Linked DNA regions of Homo sapiens: regions 1, 3, 4, 5 and 6 are each reported to be linked to region 2. Evidence: microRNA targets listed by miRTarBase, many of them from high-throughput screens and not tested one by one. Region 2 holds a microRNA gene; each other region holds the end of a gene's coding sequence.
What was found. Region 2 holds the annotated microRNA hsa-miR-29b-3p (UAGCACCAUUUGAAAUCAGUGUU, at 1,384-1,406, opposite strand). A microRNA usually pairs through its seed, bases 2 to 8, with sites in the 3' UTR of a target mRNA and lowers its output. Matches are read on the target gene's strand: a 7mer-m8 pairs with bases 2 to 8, a 7mer-A1 pairs with bases 2 to 7 and ends in A, and an 8mer does both.

Region 1 (5,074 bases), not on the chromosome of region 2:
GGTATGGAGGTTGTGGTGGAAACGAAAACAAATTTGGATCACAGAAAGAATGTGAAAAGGTTTGCGCTCCTGGTAAGTGATTCTTCCTTGTGTTTATGGCTTCTGCAAATAAGAGATTCAGGTCAATAAGTCACCTTGAAAAATATTAGAAGTGCAATGATTATGATACATGTGAAAAAGAAGATAAAGTGTATCCTCAGATAAGGAAGACGTTCAAATACAACCCATGAAATGTCTTTTTGAATTCCTATTTTGGGTTTCTAAAAACATATTGTCCCTTGTCATTCTTCAGAAATGTTACTAAGTTGCTGTTATTTGTAAAATATTGCACCAAAAATGATTCCTGGGAAGATAATATAATGAACAACTACAGATAACGCCAAAGATAAACAACCCCCACAAATTTATCTTTTAAATAGTTTTGCTTCCTATAAATAACAATGTTGTCACTGGGGCCATCCAGTATCTCCATTATATTGTGCAGTTCAACTGGTAATAAAATAAACACTTTGAACAGAGCCTGGGGTCAGTGCCAGAATGGGGAGAGTTCAGTTCGTATAAAGGCCTGGTAGATGGTGCAGGGCAAAAGAATGGGATCAGATTTCCCAGACATCCCTGGGCCCCGGGGCCCCAGGCCAAGAACGTCACAGAGGGCCTTTGATGGTACTGAGTAGAAAAGTGGGACAGGTGATGGAAACCAGAGGCTGCGGGACTGTGTCATGATAATGACAGTGCCCTTTTGGGTCAGTAATGTGGCTTTTCCTCTCTTCTCTCGGCTCCTCACCTCACCCCACCCACCCCCTCTCTCGACGCTCAGTGCTCGCCAAACCCGGAGTCATCAGTGTGATGGGAACCTAAGCGTGGGTGGCCAACATCATATACCTCTTGAAGAAGAAGGAGTCAGCCATCGCCAACTTGTCTCTGTAGAAGCTCCGGGTGTAGATTCCCTTGCACTGTATCATTTCATGCTTTGATTTACACTCGAACTCGGGAGGGAACATCCTGCTGCATGACCTATCAGTATGGTGCTAATGTGTCTGTGGACCCTCGCTCTCTGTCTCCAGGCAGTTCTCTCGAATACTTTGAATGTTGTGTAACAGTTAGCCACTGCTGGTGTTTATGTGAACATTCCTATCAATCCAAATTCCCTCTGGAGTTTCATGTTATGCCTGTTGCAGGCAAATGTAAAGTCTAGAAAATAATGCAAATGTCACGGCTACTCTATATACTTTTGCTTGGTTCATTTTTTTTCCCTTTTAGTTAAGCATGACTTTAGATGGGAAGCCTGTGTATCGTGGAGAAACAAGAGACCAACTTTTTCATTCCCTGCCCCCAATTTCCCAGACTAGATTTCAAGCTAATTTTCTTTTTCTGAAGCCTCTAACAAATGATCTAGTTCAGAAGGAAGCAAAATCCCTTAATCTATGTGCACCGTTGGGACCAATGCCTTAATTAAAGAATTTAAAAAAGTTGTAATAGAGAATATTTTTGGCATTCCTCTAATGTTGTGTGTTTTTTTTTTGTGTGTGCTGGAGGGAGGGGATTTAATTTTAATTTTAAAATGTTTAGGAAATTTATACAAAGAAACTTTTTAATAAAGTATATTGAAAGTTTCCTGGGTGTGACGTTCTTGGCAGTCTTGTTTCCATAGCAGCGATTGTCAGAATCACCCCTAGGCTGGGGAAACTGGGTTTGGTTCTGGCCCCATGGAGCTGTGCAACAGCCTTTCGTTTCCAGTGGAGGAGGCAAAAGAGCTTTATCAGCCAGTGTGCAAAGAGACCGGCTGGAGACAAGCATCCCCCGCTTTGTGGATTCAGCCCCACATGCTCCAGTGCTCCATGGCCGAGCGGAAGGTGTTCCTGCTGTTGGGTCCCGGCAGTGTTTCTGATTTTCAGAGTCAGGCTGGCTTCTATCTTTTCCTCTGACTCTTGGTTGGCCCTCAGAGCCTCAGCCTCCTCCTGTCTTCCTCTCCACAGTGATCCTTTCCCAGGGGGTTGATTTGCTTCCTCTCACAATGGCTGAGAGATTCAGTGTTGCCCCACGACCCCCAACCCCTTTTCTGGAGTCTCAAAGCACAAGGTCTTTCATTTTTTTGTTTTTCTTAAAGACTGTTTTTTTCTCTCTTCAGAAATAATACAAGAAACCAACAAATACATATTCAGGTGGCACTTGAGTTCCACTTACAAAGGAAACAACTTATTGGATAAAATACATATGTCCTGACAAGTGCTGAGGGTAGAATTACAGGAATCTTGGGTGTCAGCAGAAATGTTTTATGTAAAATCGGGATGAATTTGCCAGTTGGTCTATTGGGAAAGGAGAGAGGAGTGTGGCCCTCTTCAGAAGCGCCACTTAGTCCCCACAAGGTCGCCATGACCTCCTCCCCAGTCCTCTTCTATCTCGGCAGCTACCATGGGGTGCTCAGGTCAGTGTGCTCTGAGCTGTGACCCTTGGTGACCAACCCTGGGATCTGCCAGGCACCCAACACCAGCCTCTTGCAGGAACTTGCGGAGCAGAGAGCTGTGGGCCCAGCTCCCATAGCGGTGGGCTGAGTGCTCCACTTCCCAAGGGATCCCTGCCCCCGCCACCCCCATTGACTTGATCTGCTATGGACCTAAAATGAGCATCACAATCTGGTTTTACTTTTTGGGTTCCTCCGGAAGCAGCCCTTAGGACTAAGGATATGGGTGTGAGTAGTTTATTTGGGAGGTGAAGGAAGTCACTGAGTGGCTGAGAAGTGGGGAGTGAGACAAGCAAAGGGAGAGCACTGTTAAGAGGTGTATAGTCAGCGTCCACTGTGGGTGCCCAGAGCCCAATCCCTCGGGGAAACCCTGGGAGGTGCACCTGTGGCACTGCACCTCGTAGGCCAGCAGAGGGCTGAAGGAGTTTGGGTAGTCATACACCTGTTTCCACGGGTCACTGAGGCATTCATGCTCTGGTCCTCTTGGCTTGCAGGCACACTGGCAAAGGGGCCTTCTGTAGTGTAAGAAAATGTTCTTGGCAAAGACCTGCAGATACTCCCATGTGGAACTTGGGGGAGTAGTCAGGCCCAAGGTACAGGAGTAGGACACCAATATTTGTAACATACCTAGATGGTCTGCTCAAGGTGTGTTACAATAGACTGGGGCAGGGCCCATCACTAGGAGACTCACTTCCAAGGGCTCCAGAACCCTCTCTCCCTTTCCACCTCCTGTTGCCAGCATGCCCATCCCTGCCATTCTTGGTTCACTCTATCTATGCATTGCTTCTCTGTGTGTGTCCCTTGGCTGCTCAAGGTTGCTGGGACAATCACACCCACCATCTCACCTGACTCAGGAGAAGCAGGAAGTGATGTAAGTCCAGGTGAGTGGCTGGTTAAGCTGTGTGTGCTGCTAACTTAGGGTAAGGCAAGGTGCTCAGGTGGTGGATGGGCAGTTTCTCCCATTTATTCCCACAGAGCAAATAAAACAAAATCCTTTGTTACATTGTCTGTCCTAACTTAGGGTTCAGCAAAACATGATCTGAGCTGCAGGATTCCTGACCCCTTGACAGCTCGTGGATTTCTCTTCCCAAGACATTCTTCTGCCAGACTATGCCAAGGACTCTGTGTCCTTTCTTGAACCCTGACATGTCCCTGACCCTCATATCCACTCAGCTCTCTCTGGGGAAGCCTCCAGCCTGGCCCGTGGAAGGTGGCCTGCCAATAAAGAAAACCTGTTTTGGATTTTGTGACTAAGAAATAAACTTCTATTGAAGTAAGAGACTGAGGTCTTGGGCTGTTCTAGCAGCTGGTGTGACCGTAACGAACACAGCGCACCTTTATCCAGAAGCCTTTGTGGGTCAGGTGCTGTACTAGGTGTTTCACACACATCTTAGGTGGTGCCGTTCAGTAGCGGTCATTGTTCCAGTTTTAAAGATGATGAAACAGAGGGTCAGAGTGGTCCTTTTCACCCAGCTATGTTCTAATGGAGGATCTGGGCAAGTTATGGTGACCCAGAAGCCCTCTCAGAGTTCCAAGGTTGGCTCCTGTGGGACGCTCACTGCCATTCTCTAGATGTTTCTGGCTCTTTCTCTGGAAGTCAGATCTAAGCCATGTGTCTTTTCCCAGAACAAAGCATGCCCTCCACATGACCCTCCCCAAGACCTTCCGTCACTCTTTCTCAGACAGCAAGTCTCTATCCTTCTCCTTCCTTTCATTGTAGTCTTTTCCATCTCTTCTCATTATCCTGAGCTGCTCTGGCTTAGGAAAGAACTTGGAGAAGCTGGGGGCTCTGGCACGCATTGAGGGCTTGCGCAGAAGGTGGCCTGGGCTGAGTATGGCCTGCCTGGGCTCCAAGGCCGAGTCACGAGGACGTCTATTTGTGCTCAACTGTGAGCACATCTCAATCCTTTCAACAGCAGCTTTGCTGGATTTTTAAATACAAGTGCTTTATACTTTCATTCCCTCAACGATTTTCTGCATAATTAAAAAGAAATCACAGCACTTATGAATGGGTGCCAGGCTTTTTGTAGAAAGCCAATGTTTTGAACCCTCAAGAACCATTTTAAATTTCTTTCCCCATGGTGGTTCATTTTTAGGAGATGGTTCGTATTTTCCTGCCAAATTTCCATTGTTGTCAGATTTCCAGCTGGACCTAGCTGCTCTTCATGAGCCAGGCTCTCAGGGTTCCACCTATCTGGGTGTGGCTTCCGGAGAAGTTGGGGACTGCTGACACTGCCAGGCCAGGGGGCCCAGTCCAGAGGCTGCCCTCTGCCATACCCCTCCTCGGTTTAGTTTGGGTCTGAGCTTTGCCGCTGCCTGTGCCTCCCCTTCCCTGGGAGATGAATACTGATGGTGAGCTGCTGTAAGAGCCATGGGATTCCTGGGGTCTTCCTGCTTTCTTGGAATCATGCTCTCCAGCTTTGGGCCACCCCTCAGCATTCCTGAGATCCCATGCAGAGCCAGTTCAGAAATCCTTTTCCGTGGTATTCCCTAGTCTTCCACCCAACTTTATGGTGGGTATAAATCTGCTAAAGACCAAAACACCAAAGAAGTAGTATTTTGGAATCTAGTAGTCAAAGCTTGAAGGCATTTGGTCATGAGTGATGGGAAAAG
Region 2 (5,074 bases):
ATCTTGTTTTGAAGTGTTGACATAAACTAATAGTCAAAAGCACCACTCAATCTTTTATAATGCAAGTGAAATCAGTGCTGTGCCCCTTCAAGGAACCATGTGACAGTATGTTTAGTTGAGCACCAGTTCCTTGCAGGAACAGTTGCTGGCAGAAGGGCTGTGTCTACAGCCCATGTGGAACTAAGGAGTTTTCCCATTCAGTAGGGAGCATCCCTCAGCCTTGATCTTCAACATTTCTTCTCTTCCCTAATCTTTTCTCTCATTTTATTTCTTGGCTCATAGAATTTCATTCTTCTCTTAATGGGCTTCATTTTTAATGTCTGGCTGGCTGTAACCTACTTCAAATTCTTTATGAAGTAGGCAAGATCTGCACAGCCAATTAATTTTTCAGGACCCACTTCTTATCATCACAGAATTATGAATGGGAAATAATAGATGAAAAACACAGACATGATAAACTGAACATAGTATTTATTAAGGTCAGGATGCATGAATAGACTCTTCTCAACAGAAAGATAATTCAACAGCAATCAATTTACAGAATTTAGAACAGCACTACATTTCAGCAAAATGCAACTAGAGAACATCAGATAAATTATAGTAATTTGTTTTTAAAAATCCATTAAACTATCTCTTACCTCTGCAATAATGTATCATACATGCAGTTACAGAAGTTAGTAGGGAAAAGCATGATCTTCCTTCCCTATTCTCTGCCCATCCATCTTCCAGGAAACCACAGGCTGCTGCTGCCCAGAGTTGGCATGAGGCTTCGAGGCTGCTGCTTTTCCCCCTACATCATAACCGATTTCAAATGGTGCTAGACAAAAACAGACTCTGAACACCAGGAGAAATCGGTCAGCCTGTGTAAGAGATGGGCCAGTGGTGCTCCCAGGGTCTGCACCTCGACAGTCCAGGTGGCAAGTCTGATTTCGGGTGCCCCGCAATCAACGCCGAATACTCCAGGGCATCCTCTAAGAGCAGACTGATGGTGTCGATGTGGACAAAATGGTCCTCCAGGTGTACTGCCCTCTCCCCTGCCCCATGACAATCGACACCCAATACATTGTTATCCAACAGAATATGACAATCGCCACACTCAAAGGCCCTACGAACACATTCATGCTGGTGATGGCTGCTAGGAGTCAACAGAAATAGCATCACAACCTCTGCCCCTGCTCAAGCCACTGTGTTTATTTTAAACACAACCCCCTTCTCTACTGTCACCTCTCCCAAAACCCAACAAACTCAAGAGTGTATTTTGCTCTTCAAGTTCTTCCCTGGACTTCTCGAACAGACTCAAGTGGCAAGAGGAGAGGAGCCAGTTCCATGAGCAGCAGTTCCTCTGCAGTCCACCCTTGGCTGTGCTGCAATTCTTACTCCTAAAACACTGATTTCAAATGGTGCTAGATACAAAGATGGAAAAATCTAAGCCACCATGTGAAACCAGCTTCCAGAAGAAGAGGATCTCAATGAAGAAAGAAGGGAGATTCAATCGGAAGACCCAGCCTCTGCCCTGAGGAGAAATATCTTCTTGTAGTTCTACTTGTGATATGACACAGTGCTCCATGGGAAAGGCACAGAGGAGGTTACACAGGGCTGCACAAGGCAACATGAAAGGCACAGCTGATGCTTCAAATAGATGAGAGCAATACAAAACTCATTAATTCTAGGTTAATTCTATTTAACTTCACACCAGTCACTACAAATTATTATATATGATGAAATAAAAGCTAAAATTATTACTAAAATACATTAATATTTACATTTGTACTGCCCTGCATTTGTATAGTATTTCACAGTACACAAAGTGTTTCCAGATATATTCTCTTACTTCATCAGGACACAAGCACCCTATCTGCCTGTGGAATGAAGCTCCAGCTGCTACACAAAGGCGAGTCTCACCTGGGCCAGGACAACTCTTTTATGTGTCTTAACTTGAGAAAAGCATGCATTCCTCCTTCCCACCCCATATGTAAGTATCAGAACATTCAAATATGACCCCATGAACCTGCAATCTTATTTAACCCCGATGTGACTTCAAAAACTGGTACCCTATAATTGTATTAAGCAGATAATCCTCTAACGTAAGAATTGAGTTTTATTTTCAAAGTCTGCTTGAAAATAAGATTTGCACACTGTATTCCAAATTAGATTTCCCATCTCCTTACTGCATCATCTTTTTTGGTGGTTTGAAGCTAAGAAAATATGTGTATTTCCTCTGATACCATAACCAAGAGAAAAGAGACAGAGTAGACACTGTATATTTTAGCTTCCTTTCAGGCCTCTAGATACAGCCTTATAATTTTTATGGTTCCTGGCACTAACAGTATGTGTTGCTAGAAGGAGAAGAAATAGAATTTGAACATCAAAAGTTGCGGTGTTTAATTCTCACAACAGTCGTATGGGGCAGGTATTATTCCAATTTTTGCGAAGAAATTCATCCTTAATGAGGCTAAATAACTTGTCTGCAGTCACACAACCAATCAATGCAGATCCCAGGTCTAACTCCAAAGACTGTGTTTCTGCCCTTGTATCCACTGCAGCCTGCTCCATAACTTGACTATCATCTCATTTTGTTCTTGAACTTCATTAAGAACAAAACAGGGTGGGTGGGGCAGGAAATTCCTAGGCGATACTTCTGCACTGAATGGGATCATACTGACTACATAACACGTTATACTTAGGGGGAGACAGGAGCATCATCTGGGTTCTGCGAAAGCCGGGTGGTCTGGGGCAGCTTGCTTTGTTCTCCTGCTCCTCTAGCGCCTTTGCCGTCTTTCCCCAGCATGTGGCTGTGGGAAAGACACTGAAGATGAACCTGCAACAAGCGATTCTGACACCAGCGCTAGGCTCTACAGCCCACGGGGGACTTGCTAGCCTCAGTCACAGGTGGGAGAGCTGGGGCAGATCTGCACACAAGGGCTCTCAGTGATGACACCTGTAGCCAACACCTGGGGCTTGTTAACCAGGTAACAGCCAGGGTTGTAAGGTCAGGAGTGAGTGTTTAAGGACAGTTACTACTGGGAGTCCAAATCCTGTCAAATGAGGGGATTTGATGAGATTCTCACTTTTCTGCTTTTCATTTTAGCCACTCTTCCTTATCAACTTTTAGTTACCAGTACCCCCTCCCTATGAGCTATCACACAGGTGTCCCGCAGTGATCAGAAAGCACCTTCCTCCATGGCGAGGTCCTGCCTGCCTAAGCTGTTGTCTCTTCTGGAATACTCTCCTTCACCCTCCCTTGGCTACCACCCCTCAGCCCCGCCCCCACCCACCACCACTCCAGGGAACCTGTCATCCTCCCCGCAGCTCAGGAAAGCCTCCCTGAGTCCAGCCCTTGCTAGAAGGTTAAGTGGTCCTCGCCAGCCTCAAGTTCTTTCCTTCAAAAACCACTTATCTCACTTGGTCATCAGTGTGATTATTTAATGTCTCTCCTGCTACCCGTAAGGGACCATTCGGAGTACAGCAGAGGGGCTGTGCATAGCAGGACGCCACTGCCACTGAGGGAGTTAACAGAAGCCACAGTCTGGGTCCCCACTCCTGGATTCTAAAATTTAACTCTTTACTCTCTGGAAGAAGAGATAAGAAGCCATTAACAATGCATCACTTTAATTAAACACTCTAAAAGAAGTGGAGAAAAAAATCATGTTAGTATTGAAATCCTTTGCCTTTCCAATTCCACTGGATAAAAGGGGTCCTTCAGGTCTCAGCCCTCCCAACAGAACCAGTTTTCTCCTCTCAGAATCAGCTGAGCAATGACTCTTCGCTGAAACAAGCTGGTGGCTGTTCCCTACTAGGAAGCAGCCAGTTAGTTTGGTAAGGGCTGGAAGGGGCTTGCTTTCCCTGGCACCATGCCTGAAGGCCACCTAGACCTGTAAGAAGGCAGCCCATGAAAATCCCAGCCTGCTGAGAGCTCTGCCATCCAAGGAGGGTGATGGGTTTTACCCACCTCAGCCTAATGACTCCAAACAAACTGGCTGAAGGTGAAAGGGTTGGCAGGGCTGTCTGGGGAGGAAAACCACCCATCCAGAAGGGTGGGCATGTCAGTCTTACGAGTGCTGCCACGCATGGGAAAGGTGTGGGAGCTATACTCTAGCCTGGTCCACTTCTGTCCCCACATTCTACCTGGAGGCTTCTCGACCTCACACCAGGGCATTAATCTGCTTGGGCACACAGTGAATCAGAACACAATGGTTTTAATACCTGCTTGGCCCCAACTCTGAGAACAGGGACCTGCCACTTGCCCTGAATGGGCCTCAGTGTCTTCATGTGTAAAGAGAGGAGGCTGAGGTAGGCTGCTCACAGCACATTCAAATGCTCGGAGGGCTTGGGCAGGAAACCTGAGACAGAGAAGCAGCAACAGCATGCAGCAGAAATACAGTGAACTGGAGAGGCCATATTTTGTCTAAATGCATGCAAAATCAGATACATTAAAATAACCCTAGCCAGGTGTGGTGGCACCTGTAGTCCCAGCTACTCAGGAGGCTGAGGCATGAGAACTGCTCGAGCCCGGGAGGCAGAGGTTGCAGCAAGCTGATATCGTGCCACTGCACTCCAGCCTGGGCTACAGAGTGAAACCCTGTCTCAAACAAAAACAAAAACCCGTGCAGGCCAAACACACCTGAGGGTTAAATACCATCTATAGGCTGTTGGTTAAAAATAGTTTGGAGACTGCAAAGACAGCTTCTACTTCATTCTATAAATGATGCTTTGTCTTTAAAGCCTAGCATGGTACCTAAAAAATAACATGGGAGGAAAATGGGAAGGTGAGGGAATCCTTCTTTCTGAAATCCATAGGCAAACCCACTGAACAAACAGACACTGGTCCCCAGTTACCTAACCCTGCTTGCTTGTGCTGCGCTACCACAGTGTGTGCAAATCCAGAACGTGGGAAGGTTCTGCCAAGGCAGTGCTGGGTGCTGAGTCACAGCTACTTACGTGACTGATGTGTGTTCCAGCCAGATGGGGGGAGCCGGAAGCCAAGCCCAGATGGCCATCTTCTTTCCTCTGGGAATGCTGATTTCAGGGCTCCTGGCAGCAAGGAAGAGCTCATCTTGGTGAGAGAGGGGCCTGG
Region 3 (5,074 bases), not on the chromosome of region 2:
TGTGCCACCATAGCTGGCTAATTTCTTTATTTTTAGTAGAGATGGGGTTTCACCATGTTGGTCAGGCTAGTCTTGAACTCCTGACCTCAAGTGATCCACCCACCTCGGCCTCCCAAAGTGCTGGGATTACAAACTTGAGCCACCATGCCCGGCCCAAAATTTTCTTTACACCTATATCCCATACGGACCTCACTCTGCTTTGGGGGAAGAGGAATGTCATTTTTTTTTTCCCTTCACACTACCTAGTCTAAGAGGGAATGTCATTTTTTCAAGCCTCATCTGTACCCAAAGACTAATTCTTGGAGGAAGACAATATAACTAGTAACTTTTCTCAGAAACATACGTTAAAAAGCTATGTCAAATTTCTCTGAATAATGAAAATGTTCATGTTAGCTATTATGCTGTTTTTAAGAAATCTCCCAACTACCTGATCTGCCTTGAGCCATGTATCCTTTGAAGATATAATAGAAGTAACTGCCTCATTTTGGGGCGTTTACTACTTTTCCTCTCCTGTAACTTCTAACTTTGTGGAATATTAACTTCCCCTGAAGGAGGAAGGAAATGGAGACTAAGGAATTTAATTGTTGAGGGATACACTGATTATAAGTGGCAGAGATGAGATGTAAACCCATACCTCGCATTCAAGTCTGAATTGAACTATACACCAGTGAGGGGGATAAGACTGCCTTTAGACCAGTTAGACTTCTGGAAAGCCACTTAAGAACAAAGCAAGACAACCTACTTCATTTTAACTATAACATACCTGCAAGACCACCTTTAAGAAGAGTTTTGGGGCCGAGTGCGGTGGCTCATGCCTGTATTCCCAGCACTTTGGGAGGCCGAGACAGGCAGATTAACTGAGGTCGGAAGTTCGAGACCAGCCTGACCAACAAGGAGAAACCCCATCTCTACTAAAAATACAAAATTAGCCGGGTGTGGTGGCACATGCATGTAATCCCAGCAACTCAGGAGGCTGAGGCAGATTATACCATTGGACTCCAGCCTGGGCAACAAAAACGAAACTTCATCTCAAAAGAAAAAAAAAGAGTTTTGGGTCACAAAAAGAGATATTCTCACATGAAGTGTCTAATCTAGGGACATTCTCAAGTATTTGCTTTTTCTTTCATATATTACATCTCAGGGTATCTAAATTCACTCCCAGGAAATTTAGTACCCATCAAAGAGGAGTCACAGACAATGAATACTTCAAAATGCTTGAGCCTCAAAATAATGAAAGCGGGCAAAATTAATCAAGAATCAAGCAATGAACAACTAGTCTATAACACAACATTTTTCTACTTTCAAGAAAACACAAGCATTCTTACACATTGAACACCCAGCCACCCTTGTCTAGCAGTTACCACAAGTTTCATGAATAAAGTCACCTGCATATAAATTCAACATGCAGATTAACACTCTATACCTTCTTCCTCCCAAAAGCCCAGTAAAAAAGCAGGAGTACAAATTACAAAACCAGAAAAATTAAAATAGGAAGAAACAATACTGAAGAGCTCAATAAATGTATTGAACATGGTAAGAAGAGTGGTATCTGCCTTAGCAGGGCTATCACAGATGAGTGACAGTAGGACTGATCCTGCAGAATTCAGGCAGGCCTAGGATTTAGAGGCAAGAGTGTGGCATGGAGCTACACAGAGGCAAGTAATTTAATGCTAGCCAAAAACAAAATGCAATACAAATTGGAAAATTGTCTTAGAGAAATATCCCAGACAGAAAAAAAAAAAATAAATAAGGCCCAAGATTCAATTTGGGAGCTCCACTATGTCATAGAGTTCCAGAACAAAGAAAATGAGGAGGAAGAGAAGAGATGAAGAACTTAATATTTTCCAGGTTGCCAATCCCACCAAAGCACAGTATCATGCAATTTTAGAACACTAGAAACAGAGATGCTGAGAAAACAAAGAAATAAAAATAAAAACTGCATCAGATATCTCAAGATTTTGCAAATTAGAATAGAGCAATGCCTTCAAAATTCTGAATTTGAATACACTTGTCAAAATTTTCAAAAATTCCAAATTTGATTTTCCACCTAGAATTTCCATGCAAACTATCTTTCAGAAATATGAAGTCACTAAATAACTGACTGATCTCTCACGCACTCATTCCCAAGAAACTACTGAAAGAAGTGCTCCATGTTAACAAAGAAGTAAATTAAGACATGGGATCCAGAAAATGAGGGATACAATTCAAGAGAAAGAAAAACAAATCCTCACGATAGTGCTGTCTCAGGAAAACTGCTATACAATTGGATGAGAGAAACTAGTCTAGATTGAAACAAGTACAGAATCAAGAAAAGTTGTGACAAATTTATTTGGGACTGTTTGGGAAGAATCAATGATGTGCATAAAAAGCCAAAAAAAAGAGCATTAACTCCAAGACAAAACGTTGTATGAGAATGAAAATGTAAGCACATTAAATTAATTCACGAGTGAACATACAAGTATGATCACAGCTATGCAAACAGGTACATGATCTAACCAAAATAATATTAGAAGGATGTGAAACAATAAAAGAAATTTTCACCTGTCTTAATAGTAAGTTGACAAACACCTAAAAAATAAATGGCTGTATAATCATATTATTTAGAAACCTAAAACCAAAAACTGAAGGCTGAAAGAACCGAGCTAGAAAAAACTGAAGGCTGAATGTCTCTTGGGATGGGACTGAGGAATAGGAAAGGATGGAGCAAGGGGCTTTCCTTATTAGCCTTGAAGTACCATTAAACTATGTTCAGGCTGGGCACGGTGGCTCATGCCTGTAATCCCAACACTTTGGGAGACCAAGGCGGGCAGATCACTTGAGGTCAGGAGTTCAAGACCAGCCTGGCCAACATGGTGAAACCCCATCACAACTAAAAATATAAATTAGCCAGGTGTGGTGGAACACACCTGTAATCCCAGCAACTCAGGAGGCTGAGGCAGGAGAATCGTTTGGACCCTGAAGGCAGAGGTTACAGTGAGCCAAGATTGCGCTACTGCACCCCAGCCTGCGCAACAGAGGGAGACTGTCTCAAAAACAAACAAAAACCTATGTTCATACAACACTTTAATAAAAATTCATTATTTATTTATAATTACATGTACATACATATATGCATTTGAATATCTAGAAGAAACTACCATTTGCAATCTCTTTTCCATGGTTCTAACCTACTTGGAACATAACCAAGTGACAACATACAAACAAGTTCTAGATTCTAAACCTGTTTTCCACTGCACTGTAACTGGGGGATGGGACTCAGCAACAGTGACTCCATAAGCCAGCAAATGATTTTCACCTAGAGGGAGCACCAGACTTCCAAGAGTTGTTGGGATGTGGGAGGGGAACACTAGTTTGGAAAAAAGACCTTAAATGATTTTGATACTTCTCCCTACAGTATATATGCTTCCCTACCCCTCACGGCGACCTACAGCAAGAGTATCAAAGAAACAAGTCTACGGATTTGAAATGGCATGTTGCTTGCACTATATATTTTAATCTAAAGTTTATTAAATGTTAACGTGTTGTCAAAATGCTTTTCATAAAATGAAAGAAATATACCTCATGGGCAAACAAGCAGCAATATTCTTTTTTGTTTTGCTTTTGAGACAAGGTCTCACTCGTCACCCAGGCTGGAGTGGCACAATCACGGCTCACTGCAGCTTTGACCTCCTGGGCTCAAGTTACCCTCTTGCCTCAGCACCCAAGTAGATAAAGAGTAGAAGCACACACCACCACACTCATTTTTTAAATTTCTGGTAGAGACAGGGTCTCGCTATGTTGCCCAGGCTGGTCTCAAACTGGGCTCATGCCATCCTCCCGCCTCAGCCTCCCCAGAGTGCTGATTATAGGCATGAGCCACACTGCATGTTGCCAAGCAGAAATATTCTTGAAAGTCAGAAACCTTAATCCCAATTATGTATTGCTACATTCTTTTCATCTACTTTAATGTTTGTAAATATACACATAAAGCTTTGTCTCCCTGCCCACCTGGCCTAGTCATTTTGGACTCTGTACCTCAAAGCCATAAATAATATTTCTTCTATTAGAAGAGAAGCACTTTCAGTGTGGAAAAAAATCTTTATTTCAAAGTAAAATGCACAAAGTCTCATACAGCAGATAAAATCAGTGTTACTGCTCTCAGATGTTAAGGTTAGCAACCTTTCTGGCATATGCTAATTCATCATGAACTCCCAATAGCTGAACTGAATGGCTTTTAAGTACAGCTATAAGGTCTCATGGTATAATTCCTTTTGTTGATGCCAGTGACAGGATTTTAAAAGCTACATTCCATTAAAAATTAAAAATACAGCAGCTTTTCCAGGGGAACTAGATCCCAAAATTGTACCCAGAACTCTTGTCTAAGATATTAAGTTAAATATCTTGCATGTATATATCATTATAGTAAATCAGTATTCTTGACAACCACAGTGTAAGAAATTAAACTTTGGCTAATTGTTTTCCCCATCATGAAATCAGTCTTTTGCTGTCTTCATAAATAAATTATGACCAAACATTACAAATACTTTATACATGTTTACTGATTTACAGAGAATATTTAATAATCAGAACTCACCAGTTTCAATAGTATTGTACATTAAATTATAAGCAATATAACCACTGCTACAAAAGTTATCTAAGTTAATCCAGGATAAAAACTGTGTCTAGAGTTTAAATACATTGAAATAGAAAAAAAAATAGAAATTAGAAAATAGTCTTCAAGTTCTGAAAATCTAGAAGAATTCTCCAACATCTGCTCTCTTATCTCGACATTTGCTTCTAGCTTTGGTTCGAGCTTTGAAGGCTGCAGAGTTATATAAATGCTAAAATGAAAAAAAGGAAAAACGTGCATCAGTAAGACTTAAGATATTCTTACAAAACAGAAAAAGGGTAAAAGTCACAAAGAAAAGAAATGAACTAATTTGACCCTATAAACATTTAAATGTTTATAAAACACACACAAAGAATGAAGGAGAAAAACAAAGAGTTAACAGGGGCCATGCAAGGTGGCTCACACCTGTAATCCCAGCACTCTGGGAGGCCGAGGTGGGCGAATCACGAGGTCAGGAGATTGAGA
Region 4 (5,074 bases), not on the chromosome of region 2:
GATAGCTGATAACCAATGGTTTATTTTGCATAGATGCGGACATTTTGAATTAAGCCTGTACAAACACAATTTTCACTATCTCTATCAGGGCATCCCATGGTGTATACTCTGCAGGCTTTCAAAAAATGCATTTGATTTCATGGGCTTACCACCATTTCCTTTGGTGTTGATTATACTCAAATATCTAAACCTGCTGATCATTCTAAAGGATGAACTTAAGATCTAACTACAAATGAATTTTTAACTTCATCAAACATAATGTTTACCTTTTAAAACATCCAAATGTTTATTTTCACAAGCTTAGTAGTACAAGATGCAACATAATTCAAGAAAATCAACCACAGTGCTAATACTTTAATATATTATTCCAAATATTAGACGTTACAGTTTAAATCTTTTTAACATTAGCTCTAATGTTGGAATAACATTTAAGTTAATAAATAACTGTGAATATAACCATATGTTCAGTCTATTCTCCCCAGTTTATCCTAAATGACAATTTTATTGTGATTTGGGTCATAAAAGTGATAAATAATTGTTTATATGTTTTCATAAATTGCATGTTTATTTAATTAATCCTGAAGAGAACCTAGAAATACATTCCAATGGGTTACATAAATTAGACGTATTTTTTAGCTCTTCGATTTTTTTTAAACATGAGTGAGTCACACTGTAACTGCTCTTAAATTTAGTGTTCATTGCACATAACATTTTTTGAAATGTATTTTCACAGGCTATAGGTAGTCATTTGCAAAGATGGCCACAATTTTTGATCCTTGAATTAAATGTCTTTCATTTATTTCAGAGAATTATGAGTTTCAAAAGCTACTGCTCTTATGGGGCAATCTGTAGAGTACTAAACTCACAAAATTTGTGGTAACAAAAGAGAGTTTTGTTACATTACACTTTCCAAATAGTAACCACATCTTCCTACTAATTTTCATGTTAAAAACACTTTAGGAAAGACAGAATTACTTTTAGGTATAAAATGTTCTGAATTTGCAAATTCTATAGTGCTTATGAGAATTTATATTGGCTTTTATATTGTTTGATAAGGTTGTCTGTGCCCCCCAGACTTCCATCTTCAGTTGCCACAAAGGCAAATTCTCTGTGAATTGTTCGTAACGTGAGGTTGGTGTCAACATGCTGCAATCAGAGGCCTTCTAGGATTCATCTTACCATTTGAATTTACTGCTCTAGTTTGGAATTTTCCTGTCATTATCGAGTTTAAACCAATACATGTGTTGTCTGGTTTCATGGTCTGAGAACAGTATTCTGTGCTCTTTGGAATCAGATCTCTGATAAATCATATAGCTCAATTTCATCACATATGTTTTCCAAAGATTTCTAATCTCCTTGTAAAGTCTTCAATACTGAGCAGCAGCTCTAGCTAGCACCTATGAGCTGCATTAGGAAAAGGCTCAGATAATAAAAAGATAGTATAAGGGTTTAGGAAAAGCATCAATGGCAGAAATAAAGTGTAGGAATCTTAAATTTAGGCAACTACTTAAGTCCAGAAAATATTTCCTTCCAGTACAAAAGGTTAAGGCTCTTTGAAGAAAATGTTATCTTCAACAATGGAAACATACATTGAAATTCTGGTCCCCAAGTTTTTAAGAAAGCCTGAAAGCTTAAAATAAGACTCTTTCCCTTTTGTACACTTTTGACAAACTATGTGCGTTTTCAGTGTAGGGACCACCTTTCAATTTTAGGGTACTTGTACTCTTCCTTAGGGAAGAGACAGTTGGCATTGTTTCATGGCTGGGTATAATTCATTTATGTCTTCCCAGTTTTTCCTCTCTGATCTCTTCTCTGTGTATCTGTCAGCAGTGGTCTCCTGGGAGCAGCACTATGCACTTCATTAATAAGAAGGGATTAAAGAAAAAAGCCCCAGTCTCCTAATACACTTGGATAATTTGGTGCCATCCACAAGGCGATAGACCCCTGCTGCATAGATGTCATTAGAAAGGTACAATTTCATTACTTTTTACTGGCAGAGCCTTGAGTGAAATACAAAATATGTTGTCTCATATGTAGGGGCAAAAAAGTGCTAAAGCTTTCATTCATTTCATGCCCCTAAAAATAGTAGAATGCAAAAAATGTATTTTATGGTTTTCACATGTATATTGCCTTCCTTTAGTAGTCCTTGAAATCATACTTCCTATTAAATATTGAGCAAAATAAAGATTAAAAGAAAATTATTTATATTCTTAAATCTCAAATGAGATTTATATATTTTTATTAATTAACACACTTGTTTTGAATACATACTATGTGCCAGGCTCTCTGCTAGCTACTAGAAAACAAATTACAAAAACACCATTCACTTTTCTTTAACCGTAACTTATTGAATGCTATAATTGGAAGTGAGTGTAAAAGTGAGTGTATATGAAATAAACCATATGGCAGAATAAAAATGATTATAAGCCAGTATATTGTAAGTGTATTCAAAAAATCTGCTTAACACTTCCTTGTTAACCGAACTTATTTTTAAACTGACATGTTTGCTGACGGTTGATATTACCTTTTGAACTGAACCACCCTGATTTTAAGCCTCTAAGTGGTATATTGTGCAAACATTTGAAATGACGGTGCAAACCATCTTTGGGAGATTTGTACCCTAGTTTCTATAGGTGCCGTCCCAGCCAGGAAGTAACTATGTGTCACTGGCGCAGTGTGTGGTGTGGCCACGCCCCCTGAGAAAGGGGCCTGGGATTTAGGCACCTGCGGTATGCCAGTGGCACTCCCAGGCATAACACTGGTGTGACGACTCTCTGGGAATCTCACACATCACTCTTTCCTAGCACCGAAGAGAATCAGGTTTAATAGTGGTCCATTATCTCACTGCCACAGACACACAACTGCCATTAACGCTAAAAAGTGACACAGAGTTGGAACCATGCTTGAGAGAAGACAGCCCTTGATCATCAGTTATTTACAAGTCACTCCTTGCAGTGATAGGTTTCTGCTTTACTTCTAATAGCTTTTGTTTAGTGAAATTGACATTTGCACTTCTTTGTCTAAGTTAACGGCTAGACTAGACAGTTAAGATGACAGAAACTGGGGTTTCTGGAGAACATTCTAGTGACAAAAGGCAAAGCAGGACAGAAAAACCAATTATTTTGACAAGTAAGTGAGTCAGTAACAAAAATAGTTTAAAAATGTGTTGGGTTAGCTACAATATATCCAGAAATGAAAGATTGTTCGTCTAGTAAGCTTTGAATACAGAGTGATCTGATGTCCTCACCCTTTTATTCTGCAACCATGTTGTACCTTGTCTGTCATGCATTTTAATTCACTCAAATATCATTACACTTGCAGTAAAGATTATCAACAAATGTCACGAGAAGTGAGAGAGCAGAGATTGGGACAGGGCCTTTACACCTTCTAGAGTGAACACAGCTTAATAATCAACAAAAAGCCAGGACTCAACTAGCTAAGTTCTTGTTATCAAAAATATGTCTCAGCTAATGTTTAAATATAGATAACCAAAGTTACAAACAAAATCCCCAGTTTTGCCAATAAATTTTTTAAAAATAAGCAAAGTGGTAAAGGGGTTAAAAGCTTAGATCGTAAAACTGGTGTGGTGCATTTGAGGGTGTGCACTGAAAACAGATCAACCGTTTGATACCCGAATACAGATCTCCTTTTTGTTTGTGATTTTTGTATGATGATAACTTTGCCTCTGCCTCTACAAGATTTTACGAGTCTGCTTGTCTTGAATCTCAATAGGTGCCCTTATGATTTGGGAAGGATTTCTGAATATTCTTTTCAAATTTCTGGGCTTTAGTCCCACATTACCTTGGGCATTGAGGAGGAAGAAATACCATGAAATGAAGTTAGAATTGAAACTTGGGTATTTGTGATATAAATGGAAGGAAGTAACTGATGAGCAGTGACACTTGCTAATGCTCTTTTGCCAAGGTAGTCTATGCATAAGGGATTGCTCATAAAAGAACTTGTTATATTTTCTCTCTTGAATGTGCATGACTGTGACATACTGTATTTTGCCATTGTTAAACTCAGTTTAATAGAATAAATATTCAAATAAGAATTGACTATACCAATATTCCAGTAGAGAAGGAATAAGCTGATAGACGTGTCTTTGAGTTCTGTCAGGCAAGACTTAACCAAATCTTGACACACGGTTAAAATTGGTTGTTAATGAAAGGTAACTAGATAAAATAGGTATATATTTGCTTAAGAACATTTTAAAAATATTTCTTTTTTTAGATTTGGAATTCACAATAGGTTTCTTCCGTTCCTCCTTTGTAAATTATGAAATATTTATTGTTTAGACTGAGTAATATGACATGAAACAACAAACCTGCACATTTCTAATTTATAACAAATCTGTTTCCTTAATGGGTGGAAGGAAATCTGAGGACAGTTCTAAGGAGTCTTGTCTGCTTTCAGTGCGATCTTCTAGTCATACTGAAGACAATACCTCTCCAGATTGGTCTTTCCCCTTCTTCTCCTCTCCCCGGTCAACGTCAATCACATGCACCACTCCAGGTTTTAGAATCAGGTCATCCGTCTCTACCTGACTCCTGTTGTCCTCCACCTCCATGTAGCTTCCTTTTGTTTGCTGGGCAGCTTTGCTGAAGGCTTCTTTAAAACGACGTTTGAATTCAACATCTGGACAGAAGACATACTCATAAAGGCCACCAGCGAGGACAGCTCCTATGATGGGCCCAACCCAATATATCTAAGGAAAAGATGGAAGAGGATAGAGTGTAAGTAGAGAAAAGCTATTCCATTGAGCAGCTCATGAATGTAGAATCTAGCTGGGTTAAATTAAGAGTGTATTTGTGTCATGCATCAAAAAGAGGGGAATTGGAGAGGAAATAAGAAAACACACCAAAGCCTCATCAGAGATCCATAAATTATTAAACTGCATTTGAACAGAAAACAAAAAGAACTGTTTCATCTCCTATCCTCTTTTCATTAATTATGTTCTTTCCATCTTATGATAATCGTTAATGTAAAGATAGATCCTCTTTGGTGGTACTACAAATTAAGCGCACTAAGAATTCTTTAACTAAAATAAAAAAAAAATTTCTGGAGAGTCCTT
Region 5 (5,072 bases), not on the chromosome of region 2:
GAGGGCTATGTGCCCAAAAACCTGCTGGGGGTGAGCACTCAGGTTACTTACTGGGAAACTAGCTGCCCGTGTCTCTGTACAGCATGCGGTCCTATCCTGCTGTGGGGCTGGGGAGGGAGGCTTCGCTTCTCTGAGCCTCAGCAGCCCCCTCTGTAGAGGGGGAGGTGCCTACTTGGCAGAGCTGGCATGAGGCTCAGGCAGGGCCCCAGGAGGTTCCCCCAGCCATGCTTATGCCATGGAGGCCCGTGCGGAGGCTGAGTGCCCCAGTGAGGGGCCGCTCAATGAGCTCGGTTCATGATGAACTTCACCAAGTGGCCCGGCTCAGCCCACCCACACTTTCCCCAATCTAGAAATCTCTGCAGCCTAGAAATTTCTCCAGTGGAGGGAGAGGTGGGAACGTGCAGGCTGCTAGCTCTGTGTTGGACTTGTGATTCCCTCAGTCCTCTGGCAGAGGGAGCTGCCTCTGCTCTCTTTGTGCCCTGCAGAGCTGCCAGGGGCTTGCTGTTGAGCCAACGTTCTTGGCCAGGCAAACACAGCAGGGAGCCAGGCAGAGACCCTTGCCCAGGGGAGCTTATGACCTTGAGAGCCACAGGCAGTCACAAGTCTTTAGGTGGCATGAAGTGTTGTGAGAAAAATAGGATATTCTGGGGGTACAAGGCACATTTTAAAGAGGGCTGGGTGGGTCTCAGTGTAGAGGTGCAGCTGAGCGTAGGCCTGAGGGACAAGGGTGCTGCACGGCTGTCCAGGGTGGCTGAGGTGAGGAGCAGGGGTCGGGTCTGGCTGGCCCTGCTCCCTGTGTGTGGCTTCCTGTCCTGACGCGGCTCCGTTGCTTCCCAGCTGTATCCACGGATCAAACCCCGACAGCGAACACTCGCCTGAACTTCCTTTTGGAGCACCGCATGGTCTTGCCAGCTACCAGGAGCCACTTAAGAGATTATTGTGCTGTTTTCCAGGAAAGCTGCAGCTAGAAAATGGTCTTAATGGTGCTCACTTTAGCAGACAGCGTCCACAATGTGAATCCTACAGTTTCCAGGTGAGGCCCTTTCTCCAGTTTGCCCATTAACTGGGAGAGGTACTTTCGCCTCCAAGGACTGAATTTTGCCAATTACTATAAATCCAAATAAATACCCACTTTCAAAACACCCACCCCTCTTGCCATTAAGAAGTCCCATAACCCCCGGTTGGTTGCCAGTGAAGACAGAAGCTCTTACTGACTTGGCCCCGAGGCCATCACCCCCTCCAGCAGTGAACACTGTCCGCCGCTGTGAGGCCTGCTCCCCTGCGACCGCCCTGCCCCCCGTCACCGAATCGGACACTCATCCTTTCTCACACTTCCCACACATGATCCTTCTTCCCTTCATCACCAAAGGAGCCTCTGTATGGAAACATGTCCAGTGTTGCTGCCCAGTGTGTATGCCTCCCAGTACCCACTCTGCTCGGCCGCCTTGGGGGTTCCGCTTCCTGTTCCAGTTCACCTAAAGGCTGATTGTGCAGGCCCAGCACTGTGGCTGGACTGCCGCGCCACGGGCACCAGGACCCCTAAGACCAAGTGACAACTGGGAGAGCCTCAGCATATACTCTTCTCCTCCGATCTCACAGCCTGTCATGCTGCTCAGTGTGGTTCTCACCCCTGCAAGCTCAAATTCAGTTCCCTGAATGGAGTCAGGTGCTGGAGGCCGTGGCAGCGGAGGGTGGTTGGGGTTGGGGCTGGGGGTGGACTGGTGTGAGGGCAGACCAGGGCCAGGTAGACGGGGCTGTTTGGTGCCTGAAGGATGGCAGACGCCTGGTGTCAGGAGGGGCCGCCACCAAGGAGCAGCAGCTGGGGCAGAGGAGCTGGGGTCAGGGGCCACCCCTCTCTGCCGATCTCCCTGCCTGGGCTGGCTGTGAGGCCACCTTTGTCCCAGGCCCAGCCTCAAGGCAAGGAGGGCGCTTCACTGAGGTGTGAATTGTACGTACAGGCTTTTTATATACCAAAAGTATTTTTTGACTAGACCATTCAAAGCTACCCGAACTATGTTGGAAATTTTTTTTTTCTCATTAAAATACAGGCCCTTAGGCTCTATTTTTCATGTATGAGTCGTGTGTAATTTATGTAAAAATGTGTGTACAGACTCACTGATGCAGCACTGTAGCCCATCACCTTGGAGCACTGACTGTACATAGTGTGGTGAAGAAAAGTGAACGCCCTTGTAGAGCAGCCCGACCACAGGAGCATGGCCGCTGCCAGCCCAGACGCTGCTGACGCTGTGTAAATGTGCACAATAAACCCGTCTCACCCCGGCGGCTGTGAGTCTTCTTTCTGGACCCAGACTGCGCTGTGGCACGAGGGTTCAGGTGATCTGGACACAGGAAGGCGAGGCCTTGTCCGTATGTTCAAAATAGTTTTTAATCATAAGCTTTATATACAAATTGCTGTACAGTCATCTTAATAAAGTGAAATAGTGAGTGAAAAGTACAAAACACAAAGCCCCCACGTTCCCCTTGGTGAAGTATCAAAGGATCACTCACAGCCCAGAAGCCCCAAATTAGTGACAAGGTAAGTGGACAAGTCTGTGAAACAGGCTAAGGCAAGTGCTGTAAACTGGCTATTAGAGGCGAACAGGCTCCACTGCAGACCAGAAGCCTGAGTTCCTACTGCCCAAACTGGTTCTGTGGAAGAATTAAATGAAATGAATATTGATGGGCCAGAACCTTCTAGTAGACCTGCGAACTCATAAAAATGGTATATATTATGCTAAAAATAGTTTAGCAGTAGTGTAGCTCAGTCTCTCCCACCCCCAATTAAGTATTGACAATACACAAATTCTAAAACATGAAGCTGTTTAAAGCATTAATAAACTGTGAACATATTGCACTAGATAAGTGAACACTCCTGTTTCTCCAAATACATGAGTGAGTTGCATTTCCCAGCACAAGCAGGATTAATCCCTGTGGTACGCAAGGAGCAGGCTCTGCTGTTCCAAGCGACTCAGTCCTGGTGACCACACGTACTCCAAGCTCAGCCCCACGTAGAGTTACTGGTCCCGAGATTCATAGAGGAGCTTGGCAGCCTGCAGATCAGACAAGATCAACACAGTGAGGCCTGCTTGGTCCTGTGCCTGGTGGAGCCAAGCCTGTGTGCATTTCAGGGGAGATGGCGTGGGCACCCCAGCTGAGGGGGAACAGGTTGTGGGGATAGGGGGCAAATGGCAGGACACAGAGCTTCCTCTGGGAAAGGCAAGCTTTTGTCTAAGCCAAAGGGCCCAGCCTCCCTGGCCTGGGCTCAGGTACCTTGTGCATGGCCACTAGCCACGCCACCGCCTGCCTCCTGCCCACAGTCACGTCCTCCACCACTGTCAGCTTCAGCTGGGTCACACCCTCCGTCCCCGGCACTGTATACTGCAGGAACATGCCTGTGGCCCGTGCGTTGCCTCCTGGAGGAGAGAGACGAGGTAAGACGGCCCAAAGGAGGCCCTGAGTGCCCAGGCGGCCACCAGCCCCAAGGCGGTGGCCAGCACATCCTAACCTTGTGCTGCTCCAAGAGTAGCCTGGCAGTGAGGGCTGGTGCTCAGGAGCACCCAGGGAACACCATCTCCTCAGGCCTCTGAGGGGAGACCCCAAGCTCACAGGTGGGGTGGGAGAGGGACCAAGACACTCAGCCGGGTGCCCCAGGGCCCGGGACAAACAACAAGAGCCACATCACCACGAGAGGCCTTGCTCTCGGCTAATTGAGGCGCTGCTATGCCCTGGGGCCTGTGGGGGTTCCTGCCTTCAGAGAACCTCCAGACAAGACTGGCTCCTGCAGAGGTGCCCACCTGCACCCAGGGCTGGGGGAAGAGTGGAGGCCACCTCGAGAGTGCCCTGGCCACTGACAGGCCAAGCAGATGGTCAGGGACACAGCTGGCCTCACCCAGGAGTCAGAGGCCTCAGCCATCCCACCGTTGAGAAGCGGCGTCAGCACAGAGGGGATTGTCACTACAAAGGCCCAGTGTCAGGGAAATGCCACCCCAGCCTGGTCACGGGCCATCTCCCCAGACCCAGCACCCATGTTGGGGACTGGTCTCTGGGACCCAGGCTCCCCGTCTTTGGGCGGTGACCAGCTGTTCCAGTGACAATGACTCAATTCCAGCACTCGCTCCAACAATACACTGCTGAAGAGAGCAGCTCTTCAGTCAGGGCTGGTGTTGAAAGAGACCCATGGGATGCAGCCTCCCATGAACTTGATGACTTGGGAGGGAAGCCCCATCGTAGGCAATCACTGACCTCTCAGGAGACCCCTCCATCAGACACACATCCCCCCATCAGCACTCAGGGCCGGCTCTTCTGCCGGTTGGTGGAGTGGGCACCAAGGCTGCAGTCGGAGGCCCACCGACCGTGCTTGGAGGCCTGAGCAACCTATGACACGCTGTCCCCTGGGAGGCCCCGGAACCACATTTTTTTTTTCCGAGACGGAGTCTTTGCTCTTGTTGCCCAGGCTAGAGAGCAGTGGTGCGATCTCGGCTCTGCACCCTCCGCCTCCCGGGTTCAAGTGATTCTCCTGCCTCAGCCTCCTGAGTAGCTGGGATTACAGGCGTGTACCTCTACGCCCAGCTATTTTTTTTTTTTTTTGTATTGTTAGTAGAGACGGGGTTTCTCCATGATGGTCAGGCTGGTTTCGAACTCCCAACCTCAGGTGATCTGCCCGCCTTAACCTCCCAAAGTGCTAGGATTATAGGCATGAGCCACCGTGCCTGGCTTTATTTTAATTATTTTTTGAGTCTCTGTTGCCCAGGCTGGAGTGCAGTGGTGCCATCTCAGCTCACTGCAACCTCCGCCTCCTGGGTTCAAGCGATTCTCCTGCCTCAGCCTCCCGAGTAGCTGGGACTACAGGCACCCACCACCACACCCAGCTAATTTTTGTATTTTTAGTACAGACAGGGTTTCACCATGTTGCCCAGGCTGGTCTCGAACTCCTGACCTCAGGTGATCTGCCCGCCTCAGTCTCCCAAAGTGCTGGGGTTACAGGCGTGGGCCACCATGCCGGGCCTCTAGAACCACACTTTCATAAGCCCGGTTCTGTGGTTAGGGCACGCACCCCCACCCCCAACACTGGG
Region 6 (5,074 bases), not on the chromosome of region 2:
TACCATGGGTTTATCAGGATGTAACCCCATCATAAGTCAAGAAGCATCTGTATTTAAAAGTGATTTTGTGTTTAGAATTTATCCTCTAAAACCCTATAGAAAGCTCTTAGGCAGAATGGCATGATCATATCTGCTCTTTGATGGCCCTTGAAAAAAGAGAAGAGGGAAGAAATTGGAAGCATAAACACCATTGGAGCTGAGTGATGCTGAAGATTTAATCTGGGGTACTGGCGGGGGGGAATATTGATCAGGAATGAAGTGAAGAGTGGGAACAGCTGACATAGGGTACACCTCAACCTCATGAATGCTTGGATTGGGAGTAGCAGAAGCAGAAGTTCACTCACTAGTGTCCTGAAGTTCTTTCACATCATCTGAAGCTTTTTAAAAACATGCATTATGCACTTACTATGTGCCAGGCATTGTGTGATGTGTTTTACAGGCATTAGCCCACTCCTTACATCCACCGTGTCTTGACTTGCATTCAAGTGTGTGGGTGGGGAGAGTGGCTGATTCATCTTGCACTTTCTCATAGAAGCACAGTCCTTCTAGTCTCTGTTTTAAAAGGCTACATATGACTGCACTGGGAAGGCATCAAATGACTACAGTACAAACAAAGTATTTAATGAATGAAATTGTGTCTACAATTCTCAAAAGTTTGGCAGTTTTTGGCAAAAAATAGAGGATGCTATGGAAAGAAGAGAGAGGAATCAAGGATTCTCTGTTTCAAGCCTAAGTAAGTGGAAGAAGGGCACCATTGTGTAAATAACTCAGGAGAACCTGATTTGATGTGGTAGTATGTGTTTGTCTTTTTGCATGAGTTTGAAGTGCTAGGTTAACAGGGGGCTCGCAGGGGAGCTGATATAAGAGCTGTAGGTTTATACGGATATCAGGTAACTTCTTAGGGCTTTGAATATTTAAGGAGGTGAAAAACAAGATGATTCTAGGCACAAAGAAGGGAAAGCATTTTATTTTGGAGATGATACTAAAGGGGCTGATCAGAGCAAAGTCAGTTGTCAAGACTTCAATCTGGAGTCCAGGAATGGAGATGGAGACAAAAGGGAAGCCCGTAGTCAAAGTCAGATTTGGCAAAACAGAATTGGGATCCAAGATAAAAACAGTCTTAAGATGGGAATAAAGAAAAAGTAATGATTACCAGGAGCCCCCAGACACACACTGCATGGAACAGAAGATCTTGCTGCTTTTCATTTGCTGAAGAAGCACCAGCCATTTCTTCGGGAAACTCTTTATGATTTTGCCTCCTCGAGAATTTTACCTGCCTTTTCAGTTAAGCATCAAGATTTATCACACTGACTTCTGGCTAGGGATGAATAAGATGTAACTTGCTGAATACCACAAATGAGAGACCTGGAAGCTACTATGAGCCATGAAATTCCCAAAGGCCATCACTGGTGAAATACTGGTCGGGCTTCTGGGAAAGGTGAATAAGAGCATCATGGCAAGATGTCAGCAGTAAAGCAGAGTGGAGACTGAAGCTAAATTGTTCCCAACTCAGGCGTTCTCTGCTCATAGAACAATAGCAGTGGCTAAGGTACATGATTGAGTGCTAACTCTATGCCAACTCTTTTCATGAATTAACTCTGACAAAGCCCTGTCAAGTAGACTCCTCTACCCTCCTCAGTACAGGTCCTATAAGTAAGGAAACTAAGCACAGAAAGCTTAAGTGACTTCTCAAATCCCACAGCTAGTAAGGATAGAGCCGGAATTTGCATCAAGACACTCTTACTTGGAAGTCTTAGCACTTGGGGTTACTATGACGACTGCCAAACAGCCATGACCTCCCAGGCAAGTGACTGCTAATGTCTAGCTGGACAGCTAGGGAAGAAGCCAAGGAAGGGATTGACAGGGAGAATCTAAAATACACATAATTTTCATAGGGTGTTAGAATTAGTGCCCATTTTAAGAAGCAGATGTTCTGCTTTTCATCCAATTTGAACCTTACAGTTTCACAGTGTTTCAAACCAGGCAATCCCATACGAATGCCTCAGCAATCTTTGCACTACGTATTCTGAAAAACTGAACATACAAGACCCAGTCATCAGGTGATCATTATGAAGAGACATGTTCTACAGTGAAAAGAAAAATCTTTTCAGTATCTTATTGTCTTAATTGACCTTTTGTTAACATGAAATGAATTGTACATGTGACTTGTTTAAAATCATTTATTATTATCAGGAGTGCCTTTTAGGTGGACCGCTCTGTATGACTCTCATGCTTCAAAACTATTTTTTATTCAAGTGACTTACAATGGCCCTAGGAAACAAGTTCTGTTATTATCCCCCATTTTAAAATGATGAAAATGGACAAAGCAAAAGCAAGCAACTTAACCAATACCCCATGGCCTCACAGCCTTTAGAATAGTCATATTATATAAATATGGCAATAACAATGCACTGAAAATGTCTCCAAAACAAACTCTACATTTTAAAAAATGTATAACAGGAATCTAAGGAAGGGGTCTTACTTCTCTGATTCAGGGAGTGCGAAATCCCTTAAACTCATATCAGACCTGTGATGAACAAACTCACACTAAGTTTTAAAAACTGCTTAATTTACTTTATCATGACTAGTAATATATAAGAATTTTGTATATACTTTATTAAAAATAACTTTGGAAAACTATTTTTGCCTGATCAGCAATAAAACTACTGATAAGATAAGCTGGTTATCAAATAATTCCCTAGTGTTAATCTGGCAAATAATTGTTATAACCCAATCTTGTGAATTGAAGACAGGCACATTATAGATAATCAAAAATATTAGAAACACATTTAAAATGTCCATATGTTTAGTATAAATAGAAAATTCATTGACTAAAATAAGTCATGAAACATGGACTGGAATTTTGTGAGCTATTAAGTTTCATTTTGTTTTACTGTTTTAAAATTTAAATAGTTTGGCTCATTTCTACATTTGTTAAAATTGTAATCTTAAAATATTAAAAAAATAACTTTACAAACACACAGATATGACTAGCCATTTTATCTAAGTTATAAAATAGTTACCCCAGGGAGCCTTCAAGATCCCTATATTTTAAAGCTTATTTCAAAAACCATCACTACTTCACATTTTTAAACTGCATCCTTGCATTACAGAACTGTAAATGTGTTGTCATACAGTAAATATCCACATCCCAATTCTAATTACACCATTCTTGTTGTTAACACAGAGCACTGCTTCTAATAAAAGCATGGCATAGTTCTACAGTTTCAATGGCAAAATTAAAGGTTTTTTTTGTTGAAGAGATAATGAAGCAATCACCAAGATATTTGAAACAACAAAGTTAACATTACAATGATTTCAAGAAAAACTAAGAATATATACACTTACATAAAACAAAAAAAAGGAATAATTCACTTTATGAGAGAAGAAAAGAGAGACAGATTTTTAAAATATTTGGATTCTTTAGCCCATATGGAAATTAAAAAAAAAAAAAAAACTGGAGAGAGAAACAGAAAGAGACAGAGAGAAAGAGAGAGATGCTACTTGACATTTTAAAGACCAAAAACTTGCAGTAGTAAAAATACATTCTGAAAGTATTTTAAAACTTAAATTTCACTGGCAAAAGTAGGTAACAGAGGAGACACAGATTCAGTGCAGGATTTTATATACAATAAAACCTAAAACTAAACTCCACCAAAATGAAATTGTAATAGTCAATGCCTGGCTAGAAATCTCCCTTTGCACAGTGAAAAGGTCACATTACAAGAATAAAATAATAGCAAGAATGCAGTCTACACACTTTAGATGTTCAGGAAAACAACAGTTTCCAAGCACCACATGAACACTTAATTAACTGGAGATAATGTTAAAGCAAGGTCTCTACAATTTTCCATTAGGTTGTGCTTCAAATAGTCTATAATAAGGACTTGAATTAATTACATTTTATTGCACTATAAATTGGCTGTTGTCATTATACCCAAATGTAACAAATAAGGCAGACTTTAATTTCTCTGTAGACCTCCTTGGATAGAAGATAAGTAATTTAAAAATATGTAAAAATTGAAAAATTTGTGTACTTGTTTATAGTGTCTCTCTGTAAATGTGCATTTGACCAAAGAGATTCCATCCAAATAATGAGAGAAAAACCCCCACAAATAGCATCTTCTGCTTTAAAAAATTCTTGGTTTGTAATTTTTTTTAAAAGTCATAAAGCCACTGGCTTTCAGAGACTTATTAGAACACACTCATCTCTTCATGCATGCTTCTGCTAGTGTCCTAAATTTGGGCTCCAAATTATCCAAAAATTCAAGCCCATCTTCTTCTTGTCGTTCACTGCAACAACCTACAGACCCAGCCACCGATCCTCTTCCTTCATAGTTATATGTCAGGACATAGTCTTGGGCATGCTTGTGATTTTCATCTTGATTACACAGATACACTTTCTGCCAAGGGGAAAAACACAACGTTTTTATTATTATTATTTTAAACACCAAAATTTACTAACATAAAAGTAATTGCTTTGATTTACCTTTCATTGTTTAATTTTTAATCAGAGTGTGTCCTCTAATGGATTCCTATACATAAAAAATGCACATGATTGGTCTGTTTCATACATCACACTATAAATTCAGTATAGCATGTTTCTAAAAGTCACGCATGTGGCAGCAAGTATACAGGTGTTCATTTTACATAGTCACTACTTTCCCTTTCAAAATTTTAGCTGAAAGTGACATGCATCCATTAAACTGAAGACAAATTGATATGGGCTCAGTTCTTCCCAGATAGACATAGTGATAGTACATGCTGGTCTTGCTGGTACCACATTTTTGGTTTCTAAGGTACAAGTTGTCAGATGGGAAATATTAGCACAAAGCCATGAGACAGTAATTTAAATCTCATCACACATTATTTAGTAATTCTTTCAATTAAAAAAATAGGAGGGGAAGTAAATAACCACTTAAATCTGAACATAACTAAATTAAAATTGAGGAAAAATAATAGCTTTCAATTAGTAGAATTAGTAGATTCATAATTAATTGAAAATTATAGTCAGAATCCAGTTAGTTATTTATAAAGTTTAAAGAAAATTAAAATAGATTTGTAGGCCACTTAG

Region 1: miRTarBase lists COL6A3 as a target of hsa-miR-29b-3p. Seed matches in the 3' UTR shown: 8mer at 1,024-1,031.
Region 3: the mRNA of IFRD1 is a reported target of hsa-miR-29b-3p. Seed matches in the 3' UTR shown: 7mer-m8 at 3,304-3,310.
Region 4: the mRNA of AQP4 is a reported target of hsa-miR-29b-3p. Seed matches in the 3' UTR shown: 7mer-A1 at 2,802-2,808 and 7mer-A1 at 1,392-1,398.
Region 5: the mRNA of PPP1R13B is a reported target of hsa-miR-29b-3p. Seed matches in the 3' UTR shown: 7mer-m8 at 982-988.
Region 6: miRTarBase lists DSC2 as a target of hsa-miR-29b-3p. Seed matches in the 3' UTR shown: 7mer-m8 at 3,791-3,797 and 7mer-m8 at 1,217-1,223.

What each region holds. Positions count from the first base shown.
Region 1 is chr2:237,320,558-237,325,631 of GRCh38, reverse strand. COL6A3 (collagen type VI alpha 3 chain) reads left to right here. Exons shown (of 44, transcript NM_004369.4): 43 at 1-72; 44 at 818-1,614. The coding sequence ends at 858. Among named protein-coding and RNA genes, the nearest start is that of COL6A3, 91 kb to the left of the region's middle. RefSeq lists an enhancer at 1-1,124.
Region 2 is chr1:207,801,067-207,806,140 of GRCh38, forward strand. It overlaps MIR29B2 (microRNA 29b-2), which reads right to left and starts at 1,457; the gene lies at 1,377-1,457. MIR29B2CHG (MIR29B2 and MIR29C host gene) reads right to left here. Exons shown (of 6, transcript NR_135299.1): 5 at 4,939-5,031; 6 at 452-1,596. It overlaps MIR29C (microRNA 29c), which reads right to left and starts at 873; the gene lies at 786-873. RefSeq lists an enhancer at 4,601-5,074.
Region 3 is chr7:112,475,176-112,480,249 of GRCh38, reverse strand. IFRD1 (interferon related developmental regulator 1) reads right to left here. Exons shown (of 12, transcript NM_001550.4): 12 at 3,047-4,820. The coding sequence ends at 4,731. Among named protein-coding and RNA genes, the nearest start is that of LSMEM1, 3.3 kb to the left of the region's middle.
Region 4 is chr18:26,851,782-26,856,855 of GRCh38, forward strand. AQP4 (aquaporin 4) reads right to left here. Exons shown (of 5, transcript NM_001650.7): 5 at 262-4,708. The coding sequence ends at 4,430. Among named protein-coding and RNA genes, the nearest start is that of AQP4-AS1, 11 kb to the right of the region's middle.
Region 5 is chr14:103,730,961-103,736,032 of GRCh38, reverse strand. It overlaps PPP1R13B (protein phosphatase 1 regulatory subunit 13B), which reads left to right. Exons shown (of 17, transcript NM_015316.3): 16 at 1-30; 17 at 838-2,838. The coding sequence ends at 879. ZFYVE21 (zinc finger FYVE-type containing 21) reads right to left here. Exons shown (of 7, transcript NM_024071.4): 6 at 3,271-3,413; 7 at 2,369-3,050. The coding sequence ends at 3,015. Among named protein-coding and RNA genes, the nearest start is that of ZFYVE21, 18 kb to the right of the region's middle.
Region 6 is chr18:31,063,810-31,068,883 of GRCh38, forward strand. It overlaps DSC2 (desmocollin 2), which reads right to left. Exons shown (of 16, transcript NM_024422.6): 16 at 1-4,403. The coding sequence ends at 4,206. Among named protein-coding and RNA genes, the nearest start is that of DSC3, 24 kb to the left of the region's middle.